Regions from separate parts of the Homo sapiens genome. Here region 2 is linked to region 1. Evidence: fine-mapped expression QTL. A gene starts in region 1. The other region holds a variant in brackets. All regions are shown on one strand. Distances are between the middles of the regions.

Evidence for each region. PIP is the estimated chance that this variant, and not a neighbour inherited with it, causes the effect.
Region 2: its variant is fine-mapped to the expression of FITM1 in cerebellar hemisphere (GTEx, PIP above 0.99).

The regions. Positions count from the first base shown.
Region 1 is chr14:24,121,459-24,135,039 of GRCh38, reverse strand. It overlaps FITM1 (fat storage inducing transmembrane protein 1), which reads right to left and starts at 4,381. Exons shown (of 2, transcript NM_203402.3): 1 at 3,211-4,381; 2 at 2,193-2,829. The coding sequence starts at 3,476. The coding sequence ends at 2,217. It overlaps DCAF11 (DDB1 and CUL4 associated factor 11), which reads right to left. Exons shown (of 15, transcript NM_025230.5): 13 at 13,523-13,581; 14 at 11,963-12,069; 15 at 9,798-11,865. The coding sequence ends at 11,731.
Region 2 is chr14:23,542,654-23,559,573 of GRCh38, reverse strand. ZFHX2 (zinc finger homeobox 2) reads left to right here and starts at 7,809. Exons shown (of 10, transcript NM_033400.3): 1 at 7,809-8,231. It overlaps THTPA (thiamine triphosphatase), which reads right to left and starts at 3,303. Exons shown (of 2, transcript NM_024328.6): 1 at 2,270-3,303; 2 at 1-879. The coding sequence starts at 2,816. The coding sequence ends at 734. It overlaps AP1G2 (adaptor related protein complex 1 subunit gamma 2), which reads left to right. Exons shown (of 22, transcript NM_003917.5): 22 at 1-7. RefSeq lists enhancers at 2,261-2,310, 3,171-3,430, 7,456-7,505, 8,355-9,017, 11,141-11,764 and 2 more and a silencer at 7,636-7,875. The variant C/G (reference allele first, on the strand shown) is at 8,535.

The sequences.
Region 1 (13,581 bases):
CCTCCACCTCCAGGGTTCAAGCGATTCTCCTGCTTCAGCCTACGGAGTAGCTAGGACTACAGGCGCGTCCCACCACGCCCGGCTAATTTTTTGTATTTTTAGTAGAGACGGGGTTTCACCATGTTAGCCAGGATGGACTCGATCTCCTGACCTCGTGATCCGCCCGCCTCGGCCTCCCAAAGTGCTGGGATTGCAGGCATGAGCCACCGCGTCTGGCCAACTTTTTCTATAAAGGGCCAGAGAGTAAATATTTTAGGCTTTATAGGCCTTACAGTGTCTGTCTACTCAACTCTGCCATTGTAGTAGGAAAGCTGCCATATGTAAATGAATTAGTTTGGTGAGATAACATTTTATAGACACTGGAATTTGAATTTCATGTAACTTTCTCCTGTAATAAAATATTCTTATTCTTTTGCTTTTTCAACCATTAAAAAATGTAAAAATGGCCGGGCACAGTGACTCACGCCTCTAATCCCAGCACTTTGGGAGGCCAAGGCAGGCAGATCACTTGAGGTCAGAAGTTCGAGACCAGCCTGGCCAACATGGTGAAACCCTGTGCCTACTAAAAATACAAACACTAGACGGGTGTGGTGGTGGGGGCCTGTAATCCCAGCTACTCGGGAGGCTGAGACAGGAGATCGCTTGAACCTGAGAGGTGGAGGTTGCAGTGAGCCAGAATTGCACTCCAGCCTGGGCAACAGAGTGAGACTCTGTCTCCAAAAAAATAATAAAAATAAAATAAAAATAAAAATGTAAAAAATGTTTTACCTTTTAAAAAAAATTTTTATACAGACAGGGTCTCACCATCTTGCCCAGGCTGGTCTCAAACTCCTGGGCTCAAGTGATCCTCTTGCCTCAGCCTCCCAAAGTGCTGGGATTACACTGCCATCACTGCCAGGTCTCTGTCTTTAAAAAAAAATTATATATATATTATATATGCAAATATTATATATAAAATATATAATAATATATATAATATATAAATATATATATTATACATATATAATTATTAGCTCGCAGGTCATACAAAACTGGCCACAGGAGGGCCAAAGTTTGCTAATTCCTGGTTTAGAGGATAGATGATATACCCATATTATCTAGCTTTGTAATCATGGCTCCTCTGTTTATTAGTTGTGAACAAGTTACTTAACCTCTGTGTCTCAGTGTTTGCAACTGTACAATGGGAACACTACTATCTCAATTTTTTTTTTTTTTTGCCAATCAAGATCAGTACAACCTACCTCATACTTTTATTGTTGTGAGGACCAAATGTGTTAACTTTTTTTTTTTTGAGATGGAATTTCACTCTTGTTGCCCAGGATGGAGTGCAGTGGTGCAACCTCAGCTCGTTGCAACCTCCGCCTCCCGGGTTCAAGGGATTCTCCTGACTCAGCCTCCCAAGTAGCTGGGATTACAGGCGCCCGCCACCACACCCAAGTAATTTTTTTTTTTTTTTTTTGTATTTTTAGTGGAGATGGAGTTTCACCATGTTGGCCAGGCTGGTTTTGAACTCCTGACCTCAAGTGATCTGCCCACCTCGGCCTCCCAAAGTGCTAGGATTATAGGCGTGAGCCACCGCGCCCGGCCATATGCGTTAACTTTTATAAAGAACTTACAGACACTTAGAACAGTGTCTGGCACAGAGTAAACGCAGTGCAAGTGTTTTGCTATTATTTGTGTGATCTATTATCTGCCTTCCCCAGTTAGCTCATATGCCTCCAAACAGCAGAAATCTTGTCTTATTTACATGGCATAGAACTATGCTCAGCTCAATAAACATTTGTTAAATAGATGAGCACATACAGACCCCCTACGGGGAAGACAGGGTAGGAAAAGTCCCTGCGAGGAGTGCCCAGATAGGTAGGCCCCTGAAGAGAGGGAGTGGAGATTCAGTGGAGAAGGCAGGAAAAACAATCAAACAGGCTGGAGATGGAGCAACTGCTCAGCAAGAATGATGCCCACACCTAAGGGCATTACCTTAGAAGCACCATTCCTGGATGTCTCAGTCCCCAGATAGCCTGAAGTCTGCAAAAACTAGGAGACTGAAAGGACAGCTGGAGGGATGGAGGTCAAGCATAAGGAAGGACATTCAAGGTTGATGAGAGCAAGGAATGGCTGGGGAACCCTAGTGACTACCAGACCCTCTTCCCACCCTTTCAAGGACCCAACCAAATGATGAGAGGAGCCACAGCCAGGCCCGATGGTTTTTATTTCTTTCAGTTATGCTTGCGGCTGGAGTGGGGACGGGGGAAGAGCCCATGGCCTGGGCTCCCTGGAGACCAGGGCTGATGATACCAGCTGCCATAGGTGAGGTACCAGGCAAAGGTGCCCACTGCGGCGCCCACCACCTTGTGAGTGTACTGGTGGAAATAGATGACGGTACAGAGCAGCAAGAAGTTCCAGAGGCCCAGCAGCAGCACGTTCAGCAGGAAGACAAGGCGCAGTGGGGCGCCGGCAGGAAGCCCATGGGCCAGGTACTTGGCGAACACAGCTGCTTCCTCTGCCATGAGCAGGCAGCAAAAGGTGAGCAGGAAGGTGTGGGAGGAGACGGTGTAGCCTCGCCACTGGTGGCCGGCTGCCAGGCAGCTGCGGCGGTCAGGCAGCTCGTGGAGCAGCAGACCCTGGGGCAGTGGCTCGAAGCAGGAGCCAGTCAGGTCCTCGATGAGCAGGAAGGCCCGGCCGGCTCCCCGCCACACGGCTGCCCCTACTACCAGTCGGCTCAGGTGTCTGGCAGTTACTGCCACGCGCCGTGTAGCCAGGAACACCACCAGCAACACAAAGCCCCCTAAGAAAGTGCATGTCCAGCCCCAGGCTGAATTCACAAATTTTCTGTGGGCAAAGAAGGGAGACTATTGAGACCCCAAGCTCCATCTCCCACCCTGGTCTGTGCTCCCATCACTGCACTCTCCCCAACCCTACACATCATCACTCGTTCTCTCCTTGCCGTGCCCTTTACAGCCCCCAGTCATTTAACCTTTGCTATCTCCTTGGAAGACAATTCAGCATTCCAGGGTCCATATTTCCTCTTTAGTCCTGTTCCCAACTTCCCCTGTACCCCAGGGCTCTGTTCCCTTCCCCCTCCCCCGACCTTTTCCTCAACCTCCTAGCCTATTTTTAGTGTTCAGACTGGCAGGAGGACAGAAGCCTGGAGAAGGGAGCTAGGATCCCAGAGTGCAGGGACCCGGCTCCCACAGCCTTGAGTGGACTCACATGTTGAAGAAGTTGCCGTGGCTGGCGAAGATAGTCCGAGGGTTGACATGGAACTGCAGAAGCGGCCCAAAGATGACCACTGCTGCCAGCCAGGCATGGTAGAGGCGCCGTAAGCAGGGGCTGCCCAGAAGGCGGGCGGCCTGTTCGCTTCCAAAGTACAGCAAGGCAGAGGCCACCCAGAGCAGCACCTTGAGCAGGCAGCCCAGCAGTGCCTGGATTCGGGCCCCGGCCCCCAGTCCTGCCCCCACCACCGGCCCCCGCTCCATGTTCCCTCCCCTCCCCACTAACTGCTTGCTTTGCTGGGCAGCTGAGGAGGGGCTGATGGGGCCCCCCCTGGACAAGGATAGGCAGTGACAGGTGTGGCAGACACAAGGCAGAGCCCTGTTGGCAGCTGGCAGGTGGGGGAGAGGGGCGGGGGGCAGTAAGGGGCCAGGGTGGAGGTCTGCCACGTCAGCAGGGTCCTGGCCTCGGGTGTGTGGTAGTATGTGTCCTGACAGCAGTCTGTGTCCTTTCCTGTTAGTCCTGTGTCCTTGGCTCCGACCATGTTCCAGTTCCTGTGACAGGGCCAGCTGTTCAGGGCTGTCCTTGTCCATAGTCTGCCAAAGTCCCTCTCCACCCACCCCTACTTTACCATTTGCTCCACAGGGAAATCAGAGGTCATGGAGATAAAAATAACCAAACCTTGAAAGTCGTTTTTTAAAAAAAGCTGCCAGTCTTATCAGTGTGATCTAGCCCTTCTCCTGGGGTTCTGAGCACAAGAGCCCACCAACAGCAGGATGCAGCAAGGTGGCTGTGCACAGCACTGTGGCCATCATAGGCCTTGGGAGGCAGATCAGCATGGGTATCCACTTCAGTGCCCTGTGACCCCAGCAGCTTGGCTCTGCCCTAGTTCCTGTCTGGATTGAGGGTCTCTAAGGGACTAGTTTGGCCCAGGGCTGCTGTATAAACTGGCGGTTTCATCTGTTGATCACGTTGACCCTCAGATCCCTAAAGATTAGGTTTACTCCCAGGTGACAGAGGTAGAGGAGACCCTAAAAGGGCAATTGCCAGACAGGAGTCAATTGAAACCTTAAGTTCCATCCTCCAACCAACTACCCTGGGCCTCAGGGCTCTCCATATAAGCCTGCCCTCCCAGTCTGACTGCTGAGGCGGCGACAGCAGGGCAGTCAGCTACCTATCCACGGAGAGTGCCTGTTAGTCAGTAACTGTTTCGAGATCACTTTTTCTTTCTTCCTCATTCCTCAAAACCAGTGGTGGGATTTCAGAGCACAGCGGAAGTAGTGAAAGGAATGAGCAAGCAAGGACACCTGAGTTCTGGGCCCAACTGTGTGACTTTAGGAAAATCAATGAACCCTCTTCAGTCCTCAGTAAATCAATTTCCTTTATAAACTGATCAAGACAGATTGGATAATCAATCAGATTCCTTCCAGATCCTAAAGCCCATACCTTGGAATAGTGACCTTCAATGAACCCTATAAAAGAATTTTGAACTAGGCTGGGCATGGTGGTTCACGCCTATAATCCCAGCAGTTTGGGAGGCTGAGGTGGATGGATCGCCTGAGGCCAGCCTGGCCAACATAGTGAAACCCCGTCTCTACTGAAAATAAAAAAATTAGCTGGGCACGGTGGCGGGCGCCTGTAATCCCAGCTATTCTGGAGGCTGAGGCAGGAGAATCGCTTGAACACGGGAGGCGGAGGTTGCAGTGAGCCGAGATTGTGCCATTGCACTCCAGCCTGAGCAACAACAGCAAGACTCCGTCTTAAAAAAAAAAATTCTTTCCACTCATTTTTATTTATTAAAGTTTTATGATTTATTTTTTTGAGACAGTGTCTCACGCTTGCCCAGGCTGGAATGCAGTGTGCTATCACGGCTCACTGCAGCCTCAAACTCCTGGGCTCAAGTGATCATCTGCCCTAGCCTCCTGAGTAGCTAGAACTACAGGAATGCATCACCATGGTTGGTTATTTTTTATTTTTTGGCCAGGTGTGGTAGCTCATGCCTGTAATCCCAGCACTTTGGGACCAGCCTGAGGAGCCACAGGAGTTCGGGACCACCTTGAGCTGGTCTCACACAGTGAGACGCCGTCCCTACAAAAATTAAAAAAATTAGCTGGGCATAGTGGCACGTGCCTGTAATTCCAGCTACTTGGGAGGCCGAAATGGGAGGATCACTTGGGCCCAGGAGGTTGACATTGCAGTGAGCCGTGATGGCACTATTGCACTCCAAGCCTAAGCAACAGAGTGAGACCTTGTTTCAATATTTATTTTGTAGAGACAAAGTCTCACTAAGTTGACCAGGCTGGTCTTGAACTCCTGGCCTCAGGTGATCTTCCTGCCTTGGCCTCCCAGAGTGGTGGGATTACAGGCATGAGCTACCATGCCTGGTCTCATTGTGGTTTTAAATAGTTGCAAAGGACATAATTTCTAGTGTATCATATACTGACATTTCAAAATAAATCCATTATATCACTGTTTCAAATGTATCCAATGAAATGTAAATACTACAGTGATTAGATACTTCACCTTTATCCATTAAAACATGACAAGATTTTACATCAGAAATTATATTTCCATTCTACTCCCTCACAGAATTTATCCTAATATGTTTTTATGCCTGAAAGTCTTTTATTGACCATTTATCACATTTCTCTGCAAGAAAAGTAACTCAAAAAATTTAATTTTTTGTTTGTTTGAGATGGAGTCTCACTCTGTCGCCCCGGCTGAAGTGCAGTGGCACGATCTTGGCTCACTGCAACCTCTGCTTCCTGGGTTCAAGCGATTCTCCTGCCTCAGCCTTCCAAGTAGCTGGGATTACAGGCGCCCGCCACCACCCAGCTACTTTTTTTTTTTTTTTTTTTTAGTAGACATGGGGTTTCACCATGTTGGCCAGGCTGGTCTCGAACTCCTGACCTAGTGATTCGCCTGCCTCGGCCTCCCAAAGTGCTGGGATTACAGGCGTGAGCCACCGTGCCCAGCCAAAAAATTTAATTTTTTATAGTTTCTGGGCCCAGTGTGGTGGCTCACACCTGCAATTCCAGTCCTTTGGGAGACCATGGCAGGAGGATCACTTGAGCCCAGGAGTTCTAGACCAGCCTGAGTAACATGGTGAAACCTTATCTATACAAAATATACACAAATTAGCCAAAGATGGTGGCACCCACCCAGCTACTCAGGAGGCTGAGATGGGAAGATCACTTGAGCCCAGGAATTTGAGGTTGCAGTGAGCAGTGATCACACCACTGCATTCCACACCACTGCACTCCAGCCTGGGCAACAGAGCAAGACTGTCTCAAAAAATAAAAATAAATAAAATAAATAAAATAGAAATGTCCTGTGACCATAAAGCCCTAAGAGTTAATTTTTTTCCTATGGATTCTATTTTCATTGTAACTGTTAGTAGTCTAAAATATATTATTAGTACATGAATACCTTAGTTTTTGGGGTTTTTGAGACAGGGTCACTTTCTGTCAGGAAAGTGAAACAGTCTTATTACTGACATGGAGAAAGTTTTAGTGGTCTGGGTAGAAGATTAAAGCAGCCACAACATTCTCTTAAATCAAAGCCTAATCCGGTGGCATGATTGCAGCTCACTGCAGCCTTGACCTCCCTGGTTCAAGTGATCCTCCTCTCGCTGAGCTGGGACTACAGGTGCAGGCCACGAAGTTTGGCTAATTTTTAAATTTTTTGTAGAGACAGGGGTCTCACTATGTTGCCCAGGCTGGTCTTAAACTCCTGGGCTCAAGTGATCCTTCTGTCTTTGCCTAAAGTGCTGGGATTACAGAAGTGAACCGCTGCACCTGTCCAGGAAAAGTTCTTAAAGGAAATTAAAAGGTACTACACTTCAGTGAACACATGAATGATACAAAAGTGAAATAGCCTTATTGCTGATATCAAGAAAGTGTTAGTGGTCTGGATAGAAGATCAAAGCAGCCACAACATTCCCTTAAACCAAAGCCTAATCTGGAGCAAGGCCCCAACTCTTTTTTTTTTTTTTTTTAAGAGACAGTGTCTTGCGTTGTTGCCCAGCCTGGAGTGCAGTGGCATGATCATGTCTTACTGCAGTCTCAAACTCCTGAGCTCAAGCAATCCTCCTGCTCTGCCTCCTAAGTAGCTGGGACTACATGTGCATGCCAACACTCACTATGTTGCCCACACTGGTCTCCAACCCTTGGCCTCAAGTGATCCTTCCATCTTGGCCTCCCAAAGTGCTGGGATTATAGGTGTGAGCTACTGAGCCCAGCCTATTCTCTTCAATACTATAAAGACTGAGAGTGGTGAGGAGGCTAGGAGAGGTTGGTTCATAATGCTCAAGGAAAGAAGCCACCTCCATAACATAAAAATGCAAGGTGAAGCAGCAAGTGCTGATATAGAATCTGCAGAAAGTTATCCAGAAGATCTAGCTAAGATCATTGATGAAGGTGGCTACACTAAATTACAGATTTTCAAAGCAAACAAAACAGCCTTCTATTGGAAGAAGATGCCACATAGAAGTTTCACAGCTAGAGAGAAGTCAAGGCCTGGCTACAGAGCTTCAAAGGACAGACTAACTCTTTTTATTAGGAGATAATGCACCTGGTAACTTTAAGTTGAAACCAATCCTCATTTACCATTCTGAAAATCCTAGGGCCTTAGGAATTATGCTAAATGTATTCTGCTGTGCTCTATAAATAAAACAACAAAACCTGCATGACAGCACATATGTTTGCAGCATGGGTTACAGAATATTTTAAGCTCACTGTTAAGATCTACTCCTCAGAAATAAAGATTCCTTTCAAAATATTACTGCTCATTGACAATGCACCTGGTCACCTACAAACTCTGGAGATGTACAGGGAGATTAATGTTTTCATGCCTGCTAACACAACATCCATTCTGTAGCCCATGGATCAAGGAGTAATTTTGACTTGCAAGTCTTACTTTTTTTTTTTTTTTTTTTTTTGAGACTGAGTCTTGCTCTGTCGCCCAGGCTGCAGTGCGGTGGCGCGATCTCGGCTCACTGCAACCTCCGCCTCCCAGGTTCATGCCATTCTCCTGCCTCAGCCTCCTGAGCAGCTGGGACTACAGGTGCCCACCACCACGCCCAGCTATTTTTTTGTATTTTTAGTGGAGACGGGGTTTCATTGTGTTAGCCAGGATGGTCTCGATCTCCTGACCTCGTGATCCACCCGCCTCGGCCTCCCAAAGTGCTGGGATTACAGGTGTCAGCCACTGCACCCGGCCAAGTCTTACTCTTTAAGAAATACATTTCGAACCCCGTCTCTACAAAAAATAACAAAAACGAGCTGGATGTGGGTGGTGTGTGCTGGTAGTCCCAGCTACTTGGGAGGCTGAAGTGGGAGGATCGCTTGAGTCCAGGGGGAGGCAGAGGTTTCAGTGAGCTGAGTGCACCACTGCGCCTGAGCGACAGAGCAAGACCCTATATCAAGCAAAAAAAAAAAAAAGAAAAAAAAAAACATTTCGTAAGACTGCAGCTGCCATAGTGATTCCTCTGATAGCTGTCGACAAAGTCAACTGAAAACCTTCTGGAAAGGATTCACCATTCCAGATGCCATTAAGAACATTCATGGCTAGGCACAGTGGCTTATGCCTATAATCCCAGCATTTTGGGGGGCTGAAGTGGGAGGATCGCTTGAGCCCAGGAGTTTGAGAACAGCTTGTGCAACAGGACGAAACCCCATCTCTACAGAAAACACAAAAATTAGCCAGGTGTAGTGGTGGGCATCTGTAGTCTCAGCTACTCAGGTGGCTGAGGTGGAGGACTGCTTGAGCCAGGAGAGGTCCAGGCTGCAGTGAGCTGAGATCATGCCACTGCACTCCAGCTTGGGTGACAGAGTGAGACCCCGTCTCAAAAAAAAAAAAACAAAACAAAACAAAATTTTTTTTTTCCCCAGAGTCTCACCCTGTGGCTCAGGCTGGAGTGCAGTGGTGCGATCTCAGCTCACTGCAACCTCCGCCTCCCAGGTTCAAGCGATACTCCTGCCTCAGCCTCCTGAGTAGCTGGGACTACAGGCGCCTGCCACCACACCTGGCTAATTTTTGTATTTTTAGTAGAGACGAGGTTTCACCATGTTGGCTAGGCTGGTCTTGAACTCCTGACCTCAGGTGATCCACTGCCTCGGCCTCCCAAAGTGCTGAGATTACGGGCATGAGCCACTGTGCCCAGCCTAAAAACAACATAACTTTTATATGCACTGGGAAACCAACAAAATTGACTCGCCTTATGCAATATTCACTTTATTACAGTGGTCTGGAAATGAACTCACAATATCTCCTAGGTATGCCTGTACAACAAACATTTTACATTACTTCGATAACATAAAATTATATTGTAAATGCATCTCTTACTGAGAATGGTCGGTCTGTGGGGCTTTGATCTAATGAAGCTATAAGGATACTAACAATTTGAATTTCTCTCTTAATTTGGTGCCCTGGAAGTAACACAGGTTCTGGGTGAGATGGGTAGCACCTTAGGTAACTTTATCACTTGGCAGACGGGGAATGAAAAGCGTGGATGGGAAAGGAGATCTGGCACGGGAGTTTCACACTAGGTAGATCAATTTGAGGAATGAGAACACAGAAGCCAAGGATCTGAACATTTATTTATTTATTATTTATTTTTGAGACAGGGTCTCACTCTGTCACCTAGGCTGGAGTACATTGGCACAATCACGGCTCACCGCAGCCTTGACCTCCTGGCCTTAGGTGATCCTCCCACCTCAGCCTCCTGAGTAGCTAGGACTACAGGCATGCGTCACCACATCTGGCTAATTTTTTTTTTGAGACAGAGTTTTGCTCTCGTTGCCCAAGCTTGAGTGTAATGGCATGGTCTTGGCTCACTGCACTCAGCTCACCTCTGCTCCCAAGTTCAAGCGATTCTCCTGCCTCAGCCTCTCAAGTAGCTGAGATTACAGGCACCCGCCACCATATCCGGCTAGTTTTTTTGTATTTTTAGTAGAGATTGGGTTCCACCATGTTGGCCAGGCTGGTCTCAAACACCTGACTTCAGGTGATCCACCTATCTCGGCCTCCCAAAATGCCGGGATTACAGGTGTGAACCACCGTGCCCGGCCTACTTTTTGTATTTTTTGTAGAGATGGGGTTTTGCCATGTTGCCCAGGCTGGTCTCAAACTCCTGGGCTCAAGCGATCCATCAGCTTTGGCTTCCCAAAGTGCTAGGATTACAGGCATGAGCCACCACACCTAGCTTGTTTATTCTTTTAAAACTGCCTATTTTGCCATGAAATAGGTACCCTTGCTGTGAAAGCCTGTGAACACCCCTGGATGTGTGTACCTTCATTTAAAAACTGCCTTAGAGGGCATGAAATGTCATCAGGGAAGATCTATTCCGAGCTGGGTGTGAGCTCTAGCCCTCTCCCTGACCATCGGTTTGCTCTGGGGTATGAGGTTCTGAGTGTGAGGCGCCCACTGGGGCCTGGCGTCAGGGCCGACTTGCTTCTCTTAGGCTCTGCGTTCAGGGGCTACCTCTTCCAAAGACTACACAGCTGCAGGCCCAGCCTCAGAGCAGAGGTGATATGGGTATTACCAGGCTCTAATGGAAAGTGTGCTCTCTCGATATCTACTTGCAGGGAAGCTTCTGAAATTGGTAAGGGAGCACCTATTGCAAGGCTCAGTGAACAAATGGTTTTGGTATTTCCCTTTTTCATGGGGCACCAGAAGGGTATTTTCTCCTACACAGGATCGCATCTGAAGACTTTGCTGAACTGTGTTTTCCTGAAGTGAGGAGATGAAAGACCTCAGATAGGAAAAACAGAGAGTGAGAGAGAGAGACAGACACTGAGCCAGGTTCCCACACAGTTTATTGAGGGAGCCAAAGCCAGTGAGAGGACGAAGGAGTCCTACTTCAACCTACTTCCTTAAAGCTGTGTGCCTCCAGCATGAAGGGACCTTCCCAGAGGGCAGGGCCTGCCCTATAAGGGGCCACATGAAGCCTTGTGGAGACTCCTGCCTCTCATACCACAGCCTGTCCTACCCTAAAGACCCAGACATGACAGCAGACATAATCCCCACCCCAGGAGGGTGCTGAGGAAACACCCTTACCCATGCCCCTCCCCTAGAGACCTCAGGAAGAAAGGCCAGGACACCTGTCCTGTGATTGGCCAGTTGAATCCTCAACGTGAAGACCTGGCAGGCCTGGCTGACAGGTCTGTTCAGATGTGGCCTCAGGCATCTACTCTAGGATCCAACCCCTAACATTCAAACATGATTAAAAACACCCAGGACACTTCTCTTGCTGGCAGAGGCCACACCCCAGATAATGGCAGTCCTGCCAAACTCTGGCCAGAGATAGGGACCCAAGCTGACTGGGTGTGAGCACGTAAGGAGACCACTCTGCCCCATGGGGAGAATCTTCCAGGGCTCAGCTGAGGCTCAGAGCCCAGGCTTATGTTATTCCCCATCAAATGCCAGTGATTCCTCCAAACATTCCCCACAAGGGAGAAAGGGAGGAGGAGGCAGAGAGCTTATCAAGAGGTTCACCCTATATGGGGCTGGAGGTTGGATCTACTGGGGTGAGGAAAAGGGTGTAGAGGATTGGGGCACTGGGGCAGGGGCGCTGGCACATTCCTCAGATTCTGGCATGTCATCCTGGAAGTACTCAGCCTGGCGGTACTGCCACAGACGCAGGTTCCCGTCCCACTGCAGGGCAGAGGGTGGCAAGCAGTCAGGATGTGCTGCCCCCACCCAAGTCCAAGCCCCAGACATGTGCCAGCACCCTCAACCCTTGCAACCTCACCGAACTGCTGACAATCTTCTCTTCAAAGGGGTGCCAACTGACGTCACGCACACAGGCCTTGTGGTTGGTCAGCTTCTTCACAATGTGGCCACTTAGAAGGTCGTACACTGTCCAGGACAGGCAAGAGTGGAGAGGGACCACCACAAGACATCTAAACTATCCCTCACCTCCCCATGAGTAGCACCACTGACCTGCCTCTCAGGCAACTTCCCATGTTCCCATGGGAGCAAAGCCCACACCAGAAGACTGTGTTATTTCTGCTTCTATCCCTGTTCCTTTCCATACCTTGGGTTGAGGGTATGGTTTAGTGGTGTGGGTATGTCTGGCCCTTAGCTAAATTTCATAGGGGCTACAGTTAAGGAAATGCACTGGCTTTGAAGATTTTAGTAAGATATGGAAGGCACCACAAAAGTGAACAATGAGCTGTCTGGGGGTGTGTGCACCTGCTGCACCTTATCTGGACAGGGTGCATCTTTCTTTTGTCATGGGACTGTGAGTGTCTCTCTAGGGACAGCACTGCCTTAGGCTCCTTGTATCTGCAGCTGTGCTTCTGGTTTTTTTTTTCTTTTTCTTTTTTTTTTTTTTTTGAGATGGAGTCTCGCTCTTGTTGCCCAGGCTAGAGTGCCGTGGCGCGATCTTGGCTCACTGCAACCTCTGCCTCCCGGGTTCAAGCGATTCTCCTGCCTCAGCCTCCTGGGCTCAAGCGATTCTCCTGCCTCAGCCTCCCAAGTAGCTTGTGATTACCAGCGCCTGCCACCATGCCTGGCTAATTTTTGTGTTTTTAATAGAGATGGGGCTTCACCATGTTGGCCAGGCTGGTCTCAAACCCCTGACATCAGGTGATCTGCCCGCCTCGGCCTCCCACGGTGCTGGGATTACAGGCATGAGCCACCGTGCCCGACCTTTTTTTTTTTTTTTTTGAGACAGTTTCTCACTCTGTCACCCAGGCTGAAGTGCGGTGGCACAATCATGGCTCACTGCAGTCTCGGGCTCAGGTGATTCTCCCACCCTAGCCTCCCAAGTAGCTGGGACTACAGGCCTGTGCCACCATGTCCAGCCATTTTTTGTAGAGACAAGGTTTCTCCATGTTGCCCTGGCTGGTCTCAAACTCCTGGGCTCAAGTGATCTGCCCTCATTGGCCTCCCAAAGCCCTGGGGTTACAGGCATGAGCCACTGCAGCCAGCTTATTTCTTTCTATGCTTTTCTGCTTTAGCGACTGCATGTCCCTTAACTACTTGCTACCATCTTCCTGTGTCATTTTGTCTCTGTTCCCTCCTACCTTTCATCTGCAACCTCTTTCTTGACTGGCTGAAAAACAGAACCAACTATATTTTTGGCAATCTATTATATTTACTGTCTAGAATTCTATGTTCCTTTTCTTAATTTAAAACACTGAAAAATAGAATGGTTTCTATTTCTCTGTTTAAGCCTCCAAGCTAAGTTTGATTTTACCTGTAGCTGTCACTGGGCTTTTTAAGGTGGTCACTAGTCGTTATAGGTGGAATGGCAAGGAGTCATTCCTGCCCTTCCTGAGGCCCCCTGTTCTGACACAATCCTTACCAACCACTTTGCCAGTGGAGCAGCCACTGTAGATGAACTGCTGGCCAGTGCTATGAATG
Region 2 (16,920 bases), 580 kb after region 1:
AAAGCCATATTTGGGTATATTTGAAGTGGAAAGTGTGTATGAATAACAGCAAGGGAAGAGCATTCTTACATAGGAGGTATGCATCTTCCCCTGAGCCTTGAGAACCTGTCTCAACACGGGGGCGGGGAGGGGGCAGCTGTTGGTTCTTTCTAACCCTCTCCAGGTCAGGGAACAAATTTGCCCCTAAACTTCCACAGGAGGCACTCTACCCTCTGGGCCAGAGCTGGGCACAGTGGCAAAGTCAGATTAGAATTTCTAGAGTTCTAACAGCGATTCCCAACCATTTCCTCAACTTTTCTTCTGTTTCCCACATCCCAAGGCAGGGAAATCCCTGCTGCCTCTCCTCATCTTCTAACTCAGCTGTAAGGCGGTTTAGGAGCCGCTGGCAGAATCAATGGCATCGACCAAGGGAGGGGGGGTGGCAAGGGATTTTCCTGTGCTTAACTACTGATCACGGCTAAGTGGAAATCCTATAAACACGAGCGGAAATCAATGGAGGCTGCTTAGCGGCCAGGGGAGAGGGGCGGCCCACAGATTGCATCTGACGGATGAGCGAGAGGAAGCAGCCAGGGAGGGCTCAAGGAAGAGTAGCTTAGAGGAGGGGGAAGAAACAGGCAGCGCTGGAGAGAGAGGAGTCACTGTCAGAAGGGACACTGAGGGGAGAGGCACAGTGGGCCCAGGAGTGGACTCCGTTAGACCCAGAGTTCCCTTCCCCTTCTAGGAAGTGACACCCCTAGCCCAGGCAGTGGTCAGGATCTTCAGTCTCCTGTGGCCTCTCTCTGGAGCTGTTCACTTCTAGCAGGCGCTGATAGTCTTGAGGCCGGAAACGCTGTAGATACACAATCAGCTTGGCTGGTGCTGTCTCCTGTGCAGGCACACCTACAGGTAAAAGGACAATGAGGAGAGAAATGGACAGAGCCACAAGCACTTGGACTCTGCTCCCTGCCCACCTAGCCAGGACTCCGTGGATGTTTCCAAAGCCACACTGGGGTTCTGAATGTCACCCACCCAGCTTCTGTAACACACTAGTCCACTCCCTGCCTGCCTGTGGAAGTGGGACCTAAAAGAGCAACTTCAGGCAAGAGTGGGACTAGAAGCCACACCTCAGCCTCTCTCCTCCAGCAAGGAGAAATGGCGAAGAGGCACCCAGGCACCAAGATAAACGAAGGATGCCTCAGCGTCAGCTCATTTCAGTTATTACCCTGTTCCGCAATCAAGATTAAAGCCCTAGACCAGGCCAAAGCTCATTAGCTTAGTAATGAAGCACATGCAGAGATGTACACATAGAAACCAAGAGCTATAGAAAGAAGAGGAGGGAAGCTATAGCCATGGGGTGGGATTCACATAGAATTCTCGCCTCTACATGGTGAGGTGAGAATGGAACTGCCTGTTGCCAGTGTCTTGTTGTTAGTGCCTGGCAGCATGCTGGGCACATAGCAAGGAACTCAGTGTATGTTTGCTGAGGGGGCTCAAACAGCACTGCAGGGCTGTAAGGCCCCATGGGATGCACAATTCCTAGTGTGGATGAACTGTCTACAAGGGAATTATGCTTAGGAACAAATCTGCCAAATCATGCCCCACTGTCTCACATAACTATAATGTTATTGTCCTTTACAAAAAGCCAAAAGGACAAATTAAAAGGATCTAGGTAATTGTAAAACAAAAGGACAAGACTGGTTGGACTCTCAGTGTAGTGGGCAGTGCATCAGTCTCATGATCTGAAGATCCTGGGTCTGAGCCTCCCAGAGGGCAGCTTTTGTAAAAAGGCTTACTTTTTACTCCTTGTGGAGGAGTGGTGACTGAAGAAGAAGAAAAAAAAGAGATTGGGGGAAGGAAGAGTCAAAGCAGGGAACTGAGAAATGAAACTGAAGGAGATCTGGCTATAGGTATGAGAACTAAATGAGGCAGGTTGGCTGGAATTAGACACGTGGAAGGACTAGATCCAAATTAGCTACTGTTAAAGAGAAAACGAGATTTCACAGAACTGTAAGCAAACTTAGAAAATTGCTAAAACAATTCCCATTACAAAAATAATCCAGGCCAGGCACAGAGGCTCACACCTGTAATCCCAGCACTTTGGAAGGCCGAGGCAGGCAAATTGCTTGAGTCCAGGAGTTCCAGACCAGCCTGGGCAACACGGCAAAACCTTGTCTCTATTAAAAAAAAAATTTTTAATCCGGAGGCCCTCCCCCACTGCATGGTCCAGCAGGTGCCTCCAAAAGAGAAAAGTGGGGAGCAGGAAAAGCACAAAAGGGCCTGTCTCCCTCACCAAGCATGCTGCTGAGCCTGTGGATCTTCTCTAGGGCAGTTGGTACTTCAGCCTCCTCATGCACCAGGGCCTCTACCTCACCCACAGCGTAGCCAAAGTCGGCTGTATCCAAGTCCACCCTGAGCTGTGGCTCCTCTTCATCAGCTCCCAAGAGCACCAGCTTCCAGGCACTCCGCTTAGTCACAAAACTAGCTACTTCCTGCAGCCCCAGTGGGCCCAGCACAGCAGCCACATCTCCAGCCCCCAGGCCGTCAGCCCGCAGCACCTTACAGAGTTGGGCCACAATTGTAGGTTCCGCTGTGAGTTCCTTATACTCCGTGTGGGGTCCTAAGACACCTGCTGCTCCAGGACATTTGAGCTCCCATCCACTATCCTCTCGTCGTCGCAGCCAGTGGTCAGCCTGCATGAGGCTCAGCTCAGGGGTGTCATAGTAGGTGTCTCGGAAGGTGACCCGGTACTCCAGGGTGCCCCCCAACTCCTGCAGCCGCTCCTCTGTGCCAGGCCCTGGAAGGAACTTTCGCTCCACCTCAATCAAGCCCTGGGCCATGCTACCTGCAATTGGCTGAACAAACGTTTGCTGAGTTCCCAAGGATGCAAAGCCTGGTGCTCAGCTCCTGGGGCGTCAACTCAGTACAGAACCCCTCCCTGGAAAAACTTATGAGGGGCACACTGTGTCGCAATAGTCTCTAGGGCTACTGCCCTTTTCTCTCTACCTCGGTGACATTAAGGCCCCGTCGGTGATATTTTAAGGCTCTGACAGTGACAGGTCTCCAGTAAAATCCCTTCCACTGCTGCTGATGTCCTCAATCCAAAGAGACCCCTAGAAAGCAGGCCGGGTAGCGGGTGTCCTTTCAACGCCCCCCTCTCTACACCTTGCCACCCCAGGAGGCTACTGGCTCACGACCCGGGAGGACCTGCCCTTTCCTGCTACACTACCGGCCAGCGGAACTTCAGGTCTCACCTCAAAGCCCGAGAGTCTCCTCGCGGGACCCACAGAGGGGGAAGGGAGCCCACGCCATACACTCGCGAGGAATGCCGGGAGCAGTTCCGGATCCCGGACCTCGGCCCGACCCTCCGCGCGCCCGGCAGGTCCCGGCACCAGCGGCCATATTACGCCCGTTGTGGCGGTGCCGAGAGCAGGCCAGGGCTCGAGACACGCGCTATGTAATGGGAGGCCGCGACCCCCGCGGTGGCCAGGGGAGCGAGGCCGCCCCTTGCATTCTGCTCCTCATTGTTGGCCCCGCACGGCTCCCGGGGGCTGGTACAGGTCTCATGCCTGAGGCTGAGCCAGGCACCCCGAGGCGCGGATGCATGATGGGAGATGTAGTTCCAAAGGGAGACTTTGCCATCTCGCCCCGCCCGTCGCTATGGCGACAGGAAAGCTGCACTTGGTGCCTGCGGTACTCTACCTAAAGCTGAACTGGGGCTACAAGGCGGCGGGGAGAGTCGGGTGCAAGGAGCTCAAGCCCCAGTCCCGTCTCCAACACCCCCCGCCGCACCCCCAACGCAGGCAGATGGGCCTGGAATACAAGCCATTCACACCGTCCAACAGATATCTGCTATAGCAGCCAGCTAAGCGCAGGCCAGTGGCAATGGTGGCGAGGGGGGTTGGGGTGGGGGGAGGGAAGGGGGCGGGGGCAGCGCGTAATAAAGTCCAGTTTAGCTACTCTGGAGTTTTAGAGGGGATCTAATACCTCCTGGCATGAACGTTGAGGGTAAGAGTGGGTGAGAAACTTTCTGTCAGAGAATAAAGTGGTATTTTGGCCAGGAACTAAAGATATGATGGTATTTCAACAGTTGGAGACCTAGATGGAGACAGGAATAGCCTAAGCAAAGGCCCAGAAACTGGAGAGCACCTGGGTGGTACGTAAGGAGAAGACGAGGCTAGAAATGCAGTTGAGGGAAAAGCCTTGAGTGCTAGACTGAGGAGTTTGTCAGAGTTTCCAGCGGTCCCTAAGCAGTTTTTGTCAGGTGTAGAACTACTTATGTTCATTTAGAATACAGAAAGGCCGGTGCGGTTGCTCACACCTGCAATCCCAGCACTTTGGGAAGCCGAGGCAGGTGAATCACCTGAGGTCAGGAGTTCGAGACCAGCCTGGCCAACATGGAGAAACCCCCCCGGCCCGCCGTCTCTACTAAAAATGCAAAAATGAGCCGGGCATGGTGGCGCGTGCTTGTGTTCCCAGCTACTCCAGAGGCTGAGGCATGAGAATTGCTTGAACCTGGGAGGCAGAGGTTGCAGTGAGCTGAGATGGCGCCACTGCACTCCAGCCTGGGCGACAGAACGAGACTCCATCTGTCCCCAAAAAAATAAAATTCAGGAAAACATGGGGGTTGGCCCTTTGAATGCTTTGGGAGACAAAATATTAATAGAGATGATTCCTTCTTACTCCCTCTGAGGACTATGGTTATCTGGAGACTCTAACTATATGTCTGACCTTCCATGTGAGGAAGCTCCCTGAGGAACCGTGGCTCTTAACTCCTGGACTCCTTCCTATGATGGGTGAGAAGTGCCATGTTCTCAACACCTGCCCTCTCACCAGTATGTTTCTGGAAATACATGACCAGTGAGAGGTATTATAGGGAGAAGGACACTGGTTTAAAGACATGGCATTTTGGCCAGGTGTGTTGACTCACACTTGTAATCCTAGCACTTTGGGAGGTCGAGGCAGGAGGATCATTTGAGGCCAGGAGTTTGAGACCAGCCTGGGCAACATAGGAAGACCCTGTTTCTACAAAAAAAAAAAAAAAAAAATTTTAATTAGCCGGGTGTGGTAGTGCATGCCTGTGGTCCCAGCTGCTCAGGAGGTTGAGGCAGCGGGATAGCTTGAGCCCAGGAGGTCAAGGGCAGTGAGCTACGATCCTGCTACTGCCTGCACTCCAGCCTCGGCAACAGAGCAAGACCCTGTGCATAAATAAATAAACAAATGGCATCTTGAACTTGGAGTAGCTTGGGTCAACCTCTGTCCCCACTCCATGTTAAGCACTGTTGGTTAGGGAGAGAAGAAACCCCAGCTCCTAAAGCCTGCTTTTCATCCATCTTTTGCTTTCCGGTTTTGTTAACCTGGGATGAAGACCTAATTTTTCCTTATGTTATAAGATCCAATCCAGTGGGGCAAAAGCAGCAGCTTATTTGAACAGAAAGACCAGTTTCCGGAGCCAGACCTGAGGTCGACTCCCAGCTTCACTTTCTAGATGTTTGGCCTTCCGCAAGCTACTCCACTTTCCTAAGCATCTGCTTTTTTTTTTTTTTTTTTTTTTTTTTTGAGACAGAGTCTCACTCTGGCGTCTCAGCTCACTGCAACCTCTGCCTCCTGGGTTCAAATGATTCTCCCGCCTCAGCCTCCTGAGTAGTTGGGACTACAGGCACGTGCCACCCCACCCTCCTAATTTTTGTTTGTTTGTTTGTTTGAGACGGAGTCTCGCTTTGTCGCCCAGGCTGGAGTGTAGTGGCGCCATCTCGGCTCACTGCAAGCTCCGCCTCCAGGGTTCATGCCATTCTCCTGCCTCAGCCTCCCAAGTAGATGGGACTACAGGTGCCCACCACCATGCCCGGCTAATTTTTTGTAATTTTAGTAGAGATGGGGTTTTACCCTGTTAGTCAGGATGGTCTCGATCTCCTGATCTTGTGATCCACCCGCCTCCACCTCCCAAAGTGCTGGGATTACAGGTGTGAGCCACCACGCCCGGCCTGTTTTTGGTTTTGAGACGGAGTTTCACTCTTGTTGCCCAGGCTGGAGTGCAATGGTGTGATCTTGGCTCACCGCAACCTCTGCCCCCCGGGTTCAAGCGATTCTTCTGCCTCAGCCTCCCGAGTAGCTGGGATTACAGGTGCCCACCACCACGCCCAGCTAATTTTGTATTTTTAGTAGAGACAGGGTTTCACCATGTTGGTCAGGCTGGTCTCGAACTCCTGACCTCAGGTGATCTACCCACCTCAGCCTCCCAAAGTGCTGGGATTACAGGAGTGAGCCACCATGCCCGGCCAGCCTCTGCTTTTTCATTGAGAAAATGTGGCCTGCCTCACAGTTACCTGTGAGGATTCAGTCATAAACTGTCACATAGTATAAACTCAAAATGTTCATTTATCTCTCCTTTTTGTCATGTGAACTTCAGGGTTTTGTTGTGTTGTTTAAGAGAAGTAGGCTATAGCAGTTAGTATGGGCCCTGGAGCCAGACCATGGAGGTTTTTGAGTCCTGGCACTGTCACTTACTTATTGGCCATTGGACCTTGGGCCTGTTAATTCACTTGTTTGTGCCTTAGTTTCCTCAATAAATGAGACTATAATAGCATCTACCTCATGCTTGAGGTATTGAGAGGAGTAAACAATGTATGTAAAAGTGCTTGGAACTGTCCCTGTGCATTCAAGAAATCTTAAAAATTATTATTAGAATACAGGAGCGGCCGGGTGAGGTGGATCACCCCTATAATCCCAGGACTTTGGGAGGCTGAGGCCGGTGGATCACCTGAGGTCAGGAGTTCGAGACCAGCCTGGCTAAGATGGTGAAACCCCCGTCTCTACTAAAAATACAAAATTAGCAGGGCATGGTGGTGGGCACCTACAATCCCAGCTACTTGGGAGGCTGAGGCAGGAGAATCACTTGAACCTGGGAGGTGAAGGTTGCAGTGAGCCGGGATCATGCCACTGCACTGCAGCCTGGGCGACAGAGTGACTCTGTCTCAAGAAAAAAACAAACAAACAAAAAAACGGGCTGGGCGCGGTGGTGGTTCACACCTGTAATCCCAGCACTTTGGGAGGCCGAGGCAGGCGGATCACAAGGTCAGGAGTTCGAGACCAGCTTGACCAACGTGGTGAAACCCCGTCTCTACTAAAAATACAAAAATTAGCTGGGTGTGTTGATGCATGCCTGTAATCCCAGCTACTTAGGAGGCTGAGGTAGGAGAATCGCTTGAACCCGGTGGTGGAGGTTGCAGTGAGCCGAGATCGCACCACTGCACTCCAACCTGGGCGACTGAGTGAGACTCCGTCTCCAGAAAAAAAAAAAAAAAAAAAATTCAGGAGCACTTAATAAGCGATAAACTGAAGATGAGGAGGAGCCCGAACCTCCCCCAACCCAGCTCAGGGGACTATGTAACCGTGTGGAGGAGGCAGAAGCTCTCAGAGACTAAAGAGTAATTGCTGCGGTAGAGAAGGTTCTAGTACCCAATTTCGCGGGGGGAGATGGGGGAGGCGGAATAATAAGGCAGGAAGAAGAGAATGAAAAAAGGAGGCCTTGGGCGGCTCAGGGCTTGTTCTGAAGCTGATTTAAAACAAAACAACAAAACACATGTATGGTTTCTGCAGGCCACAGGATGAAGAGGAGAGGAGACGGAAAAGAGTTTAAAGGGGCCTGCCCTCTTTGCAGGCACCGGCTTGAACCTGGAGGCGACCTGGTGGGCTGGCCGGCCTGCCCCCGGCCCTGGGTCCCGCGAGGCAGGCGGGCGGGCGCGAACAGACTACAACTCCCGGCATGCGCCGCGGCGGGCGGGTCGCTGCACCTGCTCAGTGGGGCAGCCCCGGGCGCCTGGGTATTGATTATTCCATTGTGTGGGACGCCTAGACTCCAGCCAGTGAATGAGGCGGAGGAGTGAGGGCGAGGAGGAGGAGGAGGAGGAGGGCGAGGAGGAGAAGGAGGAGGAGGAGGAGGAGGCAGGGAGCGAGCGAGTGCCCAGGGTGAATCAATGGAAACCCCCTCACGAAGCCGGGGAAACACTTCAGCCGCAGCCAAATAGCATTGATTATTTTCCTTCACTTCCCTCACCGCCGTGAATTTATTTATTTATTTTTTTCCGTCTCCGTCCCTGACGCCCCGGAGCGAGCGCTGGAGGGAGGGAGGAGGAGGGGAAAAAAGAGGAATCAACACATCGGAGAAGTCCCTTCCAAGAGCCGCCCCCTCCCCTCCCCGCCTCGCGCTGCTCGGTGGCCGCGGTTCGACTCCCGTCCCTGCTTCCAGCTGAGGTGTAAGTGCATCGATTTCCGATGCTGCTGGGTTGGTTTTTTTCTCCTCTCCCTCTCTCTCTTCTTCCCTTCCTTGCTCTTTGGAAGCTCGAGACGGGAGAGGAGGCGCTTGGAGACTGCCGCTGGAGGGGACGGAGAGGGACGGGAAGGGGCTGGGGGAGGGGACAAGGACGGACGGACAGACAGACCGAGAGCCCTGGGAGATAGCAGACAGGGGTGTGGGAGGAAGAGGGCGTGCGCGAGGATGGGGGAAGAGAGATGCGGGGGTGGAGGGAGAAACGGGAACGGGAAAGGCAGAGGCCCGC[C/G]GGACAGACGAAGGGTATGGAAAGCCTAGACGGACCGCGCCGAGTTGGGCAGGGAGCGGGGATCCCGGGGGGAAGGGGAGGCCCGGTGAGTGTGAGGGCTCAGAGCTGTCAGCCTGGAGGGTCCTGGGTCTCGGCGGCCCCCCGCCGGCTGTGGGATGGGAGAACCGCGGCCGGCGGGCTGATGGATGGGCTAGCGCGCTGGGGCGTGGAGTGGGAGGGGACGTGGATACTCTCAGTCTTCGTTCGTTTTTGGCTGAAGTTGGGCTTTCCATTCCTTTTTTTGAAAGTGTTGAGTAGGTGAGGGGAGGCCATAAGCCCATTCAAGGTGAAGCGTGTCTGTCCTGCACGCCCATCCTACCACCCCCATCCGCTCGTCTGCCCCTCTGAGCAGCCCTATCATTTTCAAGCACAGGACCACGCTTCCTCGCTGTGCCTGTAGCCCCGCTGATCTCTGTCCATGTGTCCCTGACTTTTGGTTTTGCTGTTCTTCATCTTGTCTCTTCCATCCCATCCATCTCTGGATCTGTATGTCACTGTCTCCACTTGTGACCCTTCCCATCTGAGTGATCCTCTCCTTGTGTGTCTCTATCACTATGTGTCACGCCTTGGCTGCCTGTTCTGTCGGTCTAGGATTCCATGCCCTCTCCTTCAGAGTCTGTCTGGATATCTCTGGCCTTTTCAGGCTACTTTGGAATTTGCTTATCAGTCATGATTGTGGTGGTCACAGTCAGGGCCTGGAGGAGTGGGATGATGGAGCAAATGTGTCTTCGCCAAAGCCTCTAGTGCCTTCAGCATGGCCAGGACAGCCTCCTCTTCCACCATCACCAGAGAAGCTTTGGAACTTCCTAGCATTGTTGACTGTCCCCTTTGCCATGTGCCTGTCTCCCTCATCAGAACCTCACCTTCTGGTCTCATGCGTGTCATCTGCCTTTCCAGGAGCTTCGCACAACAAAACCTCTTCCCTGCTGACTTAATTTTACTCCCTTCCCCCACTGTATCATTGTATATTTTTTATTTCCCCATTTTGCTTCACCCCTTTTTTCCATCTGTTTCCCATGAGCTCTGAGTTTCCACCTTTGTTCCCATAATCTGCCCTCTTCCTACCTTTTCTTCTTGATCACCCTAAGTTTCTAGTTTCTTTTATCCCTTTTCCTCTTATCCAGCATTTTAACCCCAGCAGCAGAAAGTACCAGCAAGCAAAGGGCTGGGAGAGGTGTGGGGTATGGTTTGTGAAGGCACATAAACAGGCCAAGAAATAAATTTAATGAGCTTCCAGGGGCATATAACCCCTCCATCAGTCAGTGCCATTATGTCAGTTAACTGTCAACTTTGATTTTGTAAGGGGACATTCCCTAGGACTCTAAGCTCCACCCTGCCTGGTTGCCCCCCATCCTTCAGTTCATTCTAGATATCAGTTGCTTTTTCTTCACTTTTTAGTTCATCTTCTTCCTAGGCCCCTGCTACTATCATATTTAGATCCAGCACCATTTTTTTTTAATGAGGCAGTGTTTATTAGTGTAATAAAAGCTATCGTATGTAAGGAGCCAAGTTCATTTAGCCTGAAGAACAGTAAGGGTGGATAAAGGATCTGGAGAGTTTACCTTAGTTTTTAGCCCATCATTGTTTTTCCAAACCTCAGGAGCTTGGAAAGGTAAAAGGAGCAGGCAGACATGGGCAGAAGATGGACGATTTCAGAGGTGAACAGAATTAAAGAAAGAAAGGGGTGGTCGGTGCAATAAACACATGGGGTAGAGAAATGTATGACGTGAGGGATGTGCAAAGGAAGGGAGGAAAATCTATGCGGACTCGGGGGCAGGGGAGGAACCAAGGGGTGATTAATAAGAAATTGGAAGAATGAAACAAAACGTGTTGATAGCAATACAGAAGGTAAAAGGAAGAGAAATGATAGAATATTCCTAAAGTGGAGGTCAACAGAAAAAGCACTATGAAATTAATACAGTAGTAAAGAGGGGGAAGGGAGGAATTGCTGAACAAGATGAGATGGGAAGAGAGTATGGTACAAAGAAGGTAAATGGATGGCAAACGAAGGAGTGCTGAGGCAGATCAGAGCTGCACAGAGCTTGGTAGGAGGAAAAGAGGAGAGGATGAGGTATCAAAGGAAACAAATGCCTCTGGTGTGAGGAGGACACAGCGTGACTGATGCGAAGAGAGCGAGAGCACTGCGGGGGCGCCGGGGGGTTGGAAAAAAAGCATAGCACAAATAGCAGGAATACCACTGGGCGAAGCCCCAGAAGAGAGAAATGCCCAAGAGAGGGAGAGAAAGCAGAAATATCCAGGGAAGAGACAGAGAGAGAGAGAACCTCACGAGCATTCATTTCATTGGCCTAATCACTCACTACCCCCACGAAAGGCCTTTGTATTTCATTCCCAAGCCAGAACACAAGCAAAGAGATGAAAAAGTAGAATTCCCATAAACTTCAGCTGAGAGGAACTTGAATCTTCCCAGCCCCTGAGAACCAAAGACCTCAAGCCTCTGATGTCATAAATTGCTGGTATTGCCTTGGCAACCTGACAGGGTTCCTCCCTCCATGATGTCAGAGGCAGCTGGTGTTACCTTGAGACCCATACAGGAATCACTTGCTGCTTTGCCGGGGTGCTGTATCACCTACGGGCCAGGGCCTGGGTCGAATTGGTAGGATTTCTGACTCTGGTAGCTTGACCTTGCCTCCCTGGAGCTCTTCCCAGCTCAGAACAACAGTTGTCACAAATAACTCCTGTTTGTGAGCACCTGAGGTTTGCTAGAGCCTGACAGTAGCAAGAGGAAGGAACCTAAGACAGGGCATTGAGGTCAGGATGGTTGGATCAAAAGGCAGGCAGAGACGGAAGAGGAGGACTAGAAATGGCAGTTACAGAATGTGAAAGGAGAAGGGCTTTGTGAGTGGGGAGGAGAGTTGTTGAAAGTGTAATGGCTTTGGGTTTAGGAATGGAGACTAAAGCTAGAATGCAGAGGGAAGGGATCGGGGCTGTGTGAGTGTAAACTCATTCAGGGATTGAGAAAAGGGAAGGGTTGTGAAATGCCAGAGGGCACAGTGGAATTTGGCTGTACAGAAAGGGGGGAAATGGGACAGAGTCCCCTAGTCTGAGAGACTTAGCTGTCTGGTGAGAGACTCAGGGTTAGTCACATGGTCATCTGAGGAGTGGCTACATCTGTCTAGTTTCCAATTGTTTTCCAGCACCTAGCACAGTGTCTGTCACACAGAAAAGGCTTAATAAATATCTACTGATCAAACGTTGAATTAGTAGGGAGAGGCTGGGGGAAAGAGTTGCCCACCTAATTTTCACCCACTCCCCCCACCTAAGTCTACATTAATGGGCAAACTGGGAAATCAGAAACCGGAGGGAATGGCTGGAGGGTAGTTAACCAGTGACAGTGAGATCTGAGGCAGACAGGAGAGACTGGGTTAGGGTCACACTTGGAGGCAGCCAGGGGAACTCTCAGGGCTCATGTGCAGAGTCTTTGTAGTGATAATTGGAGGAAAACATGAATGAACAGCCCTAGGAGCCCAAGAGGAAGATGTGGAGGAGGGAAGAGAAAGGAGGCGGTTTCCAGAAAAGGTTGAGAGTTGTTTCCAAAGAGAGAGTTGGCAAATGTGAATTAAAAGTAGCATCCCCACCCCATTCCCAATCATGAAACTACAATTGAATTGGTCATAACCGTATATATACAATGGCCGCAAATAAGGAGTTCATAAATCAATACCAGACCCATTCTAAACACCTATCCCAAGCCAGGTAATTATTAATACAACGAAGGCAGCATTGGCCATGTGGGCCAAAAGGCCAAAGGAGGGAGAAGTTACTGCTGCCCAGATCTTGATGTAAAGAACCCTGTGAGGGATGGCCTTGACATCTGACTCTCCATTGTTGAAAGACTCCAGAGGTATCTAGAAGAGGGGGAGGCAAGAGATGTAAAACTCACCACAACTCTCAGAGCAAAATCTGCAGAAAGAGGAGGTCTAAATACACAGAAGCTATAGAAAACAAACATGCACCCAATCAGGAATCACGAGGTGAAGGGCCAAAAAGCCCCTGAATGGGTTGAGAAATCTACAAAAGAAGACAGGGGAGAGAGCTGGGAGTGCTGGAGGACAGTCTGGCTATAATAAGCAAGGCCAGGGCAGCTAAAGAAGGGGCTGGTGGGCGGGGGGCCTGAAGGAAGGACAGTGGTGGCTGTTGCACTGTCAGCCACCGCCACGGAGTTGGGCAGCTCATATTTTGCAGCAAGCGACAGGCTGTCGACACAGTGGTCCTTTACCTCACCGTTAGAAACTCATTTCATTGATTTTTCCATCTTTCTTCTCGAGCTCCTCACACTAAGCTCGGTCAGCCCACCACCCACTTTCCCAGAGCCCCTTGCCTCTCTGGGGAAAGTCCTAGGGAACTGCCTGCCCATCCCTCCTCCCCAGGCTGGCAAGGCAGGGGTGAAAGATTTAGAAGTAACTTCCAGCCCCGTAGGGTAATCCCATGGGCTCTCAGTGGCTTCCTCATGTAGGAACTAGTCCAGAGACCAGGGTCCTCATGTGCAGTTGTTAAGGGGTGACAGGGCTGAGGTCCACCCACAGTCCTGTCACCAAGCTGTACCACTGGCATGGGGGCTGCATACACCTGGAGGAAGATATATTTTTCTAATTTCTACTGAGATGCTCAGCACCCCTCAGCATTTTTTACCCCAAAGTCTAATGAGAGAACAGGAGCCCTCTTTCTGTATTTGGCAGGAACACAGGATTACATCAAAGCTAAAGTTCAGGCCTTGGAATTCCCAGCAGGACCATCAACTGGAATGTCGCATGCACAGGGGCCTGTGCAATCAGAAAGACATGAATGTTCCAGGGTGTGCAAGACCTCTCTGCAGAGCAGTTTATGCATGGAGAGTCTGGTCCTGTGGAGCACGTTGATGTGCAAAGTCAGTGGGGCAGAATGGGTGTAGGCAGGAATTTAACTTCATGTATGCACATTTCCCTAGTGCCTCCTCCAGTCATAGCTAACTGCCCTGGACCTCTCCCTTTGGGGCTGGGCTTGGGCTAGAGGTCAAGAGTCAATTACCAGTCATTTGGCTTCTCAGTGAAGGAGGGCAGAGGGTGGGCCAAGAGTGTTAGATTGTGTTTCCCCGAGGACCTGATGGGGTAAACGCCATTTCCATCCTCAGATTTTTCATTCCTTGTTTTGTGATGCCCTTTTCTTTCCCTAATCTCAAGCCTCTGTCTTCTTTATTCCTGGGCCATGGGCATGGGTCTAGATTTTGCTGCTTCTCTTGCCTCCATCACAGTTGTCTGCATTTCCCCCCAGCCATCTCTGTGTTCTGTATCAGTGGTCTGCTTGGGCCACAGATGCCTTTCTTCTCATCTCCAGCTTCTTCAGGCTATGTGGTTTCCACAAACCTACAGATAAATCCTGCTGCTTTAGGGAAAGAAGTGCACTTGAAATTAGAGAGAAGGCCAGGGAAGGATGAGAAAGAGGTTCTGGAAAGATTAGGCAGGGAGAAGTTGGGAGAGAGTATGACAGAGATAGGAGTCAAAGGTGAAAAACCCATGACTTGGAGATGGGAGAGAGCACAGAGAGATGGCCACAATTTAAATGAGAAAGGAAGGAGTGCAGTAGGCTGTGAGGACTAAGAAATTGGAGAGCAAACAGGAAGCCTGACCCCTCCGCAGGGAAATGAAGACAGCTGAGGAGGGCGGACGAGTGGTTGTGTAAGAAGTAGGGCTGAAAAGCCAGGCCATGGTCTCGGCCTGCGTGTCAGTCCTGAGTTCAAGCAGTGCTGGCTTTGACCCTTATGGGAGGAACTGAAGTGGCAAATTAACGACGATAATGAAGTCACTGCTCCTTGTTTGTCTTTGCTGGTTTCCCCTTGAGATTTGTCCTTTGGCCAGACAGGGCAATGTGGGGGAGGGGAGGAACTGGAGCCGTGAAGGGCGGGGGAGAGGGAAGGAAAAGAGGATGGAGAAATGGCAATGTGGAGGACAAATTGACTAGAGGAGAAAAAAGGGAGGGTGATGAGTGAAGAGAAGAGGAGCCCAGAATCGAAGAGAGAAGCGGGAAGGGAGACATGAAAGGAGAATGAAAGAGGAGAGGGGTGCAGAAAAACGGCCAGGGAAAAGAACAATGGGGGACAGGAAAGGGAAACCTGGTAGGAGGAGCAGAAAAAAAAGGTGGGAGAAGGAGAAGTGGAATGGAGAAATGGCGAGCCGGAGGGAAAGAACGTGGCCAGGGCTGCAAAAGCTGCAGCTGGCAGGGCCAGTGGGCGGGGCCTCATCTCCATCTCTAATGGCTGTGAAATGAGGTTAGCGCCATTAGAGGCAGCGAGAGTGTAACGAGATCACACTCATTAGGGCTGGGCCATCCCAGTAATTACCACCACCCTAAACACGCCCGCGCCAGCCGGGCCAACCACATACGGGCTCACAGCAACACACTGAACAGGATACCCTACTACTGAAAGGGAAGCACAGGGCCCACACACGTGTACATGGAGGGCCTGGGAAAATCCAGCCAGGGAGAACAAGCACCTTCACCAACCCCAAAGAAGTACTGGGACAGGGCTACAGCCAGGTTACCAGCTGCCCCACATACAATCAAAAAACAACATACACATACCCCAACACAGGAAATAAGGCATATGGATGAATAATTATTCCATTTCCATTTATTGATACACCCAAAGTGCCAATCTCAATGATGATCCTCTCAATGGACTCAACTCCATGAGTTCCCCATTCCCTTTTTTTTTTTTTTTTTCTGTTTTCTGTTTCTGATGTGTTTGTTTTTAGACAGGGTCTCACTCTGTCACCCAGGCTGGAGTGCAGTGGTGCAATCTCGGCTCACTACAACCTCTGCTTCCCGGGTTCAAGCGATTCTTCTGCCTCAGCCTCCTGAGTAGCTGGGATTACAGGTGCATGCCACCACGCCCGGCTCATTTTTTTTGTATTTTTAGTAGAGACAGGGTTTCACCGTGTTGGCCAGGCTGGTCTCAAGCTCCTGACCTCCAATGATCCACCCACCTCGGCCTCCCAAAGTGCTGGAATTATAGGCGCGTGCCCGGCCTGCCCCATTCTCTATATGAAGAGACTAAATTGAGACTTTACGCAACTTACCTGAGGTCATTTACATATTAAGAAACAGAACTAGAATTTGATTCCAGGTCTGTCTGACTCTAAAGGCTATTTTTTTTTGTTTTTTGAGACAGGGTCTCCCTCTGTTGGAGGGAGAGTGCTTGTCTGATGAAGTTCATATGCTAATATGGATACACATGTGTAGACCTTCAACTTTAAGAGATGTTGTCACAAATGGGTACACATATCATTCAAAGAACACTACCCGCCATTATCTATCCCTTCCCTCCTGTTCCCACTCCCTCCCTCCCGCTCCTTCCCTTCCTTCACACAGGGCATGGCCAGTGCCCCTGCATGGACTGCAGTGTGAATGACGCACCCTGGAGTTGCGCAAAGCAGTGCTCCTCTTCTGGTCCATCTTATACTAAGAAACAAACCAAATGGAAGACAGCCATCTAGCACCTTCAGGCGGAACATGATAGCACATATGCTCAAGGTGACACACAGAGTAATACAATCAGACTCAAAAGACCTCATTCAAAATGCATACCAGCCAGAGTTCAGAAGCTTACAAATTAACCCAAGAGCAGAGGTACTGACATCAGGCTACCTGAGTTCCAATCTCAACTCTACTTCTTTTTAAGCAGGAGATCTTAAAAATTACTTAACCCATCTAAATCAGTCTCCATGTTTGTAAAATAGGAATGAATAGCTACATCTATTGCATCAGATTGAAGTGGAGGATTAGGTGATGTGATACTTGCCGAGGGCCTAGCACGGTGCCTGGCCCATGGCAAACATTTAAAGATGTTAGCTATTTACTATTATTACAATTAGTTTTTGTTGTAATACTATTTAAATGCAGTCATTACATCACACAGGTTCACAGAATAAAATAACCAGAAAGACTTATTTACATACACGGTCACTCAGAATGTTTTCCTTCCAGCCGGGCGCAGTGGCTCACGCCTGTAATCCCAGGCCAAGGTGGGCGGGTCAGGTAGTCAGGAGATAGAGACCATCCTGGACAACATGGTGAAACCCTGTCTCTACTAAAATACAAAAAATTAGCTGCTTGTGGTGGTACGCGCCTGTAATCCCAGCTACTCGGGAGGCTGAGGCAGGGGAATTGCTTGAACCCAGGAGACAGAGATTGCCGTGAGCTGAGATCACACCACTGCACTTCAGCCTGGCAACAGAGACACCATCTCCAAAAAAAAAAAAGAATGTTTTCCTACCAAGTTCTGGGAGACCAAATTCTTCAGCGGTCCCCCATGCAAGGATCAGATAGGATCCTGATTCTGAATTTAAGGGGA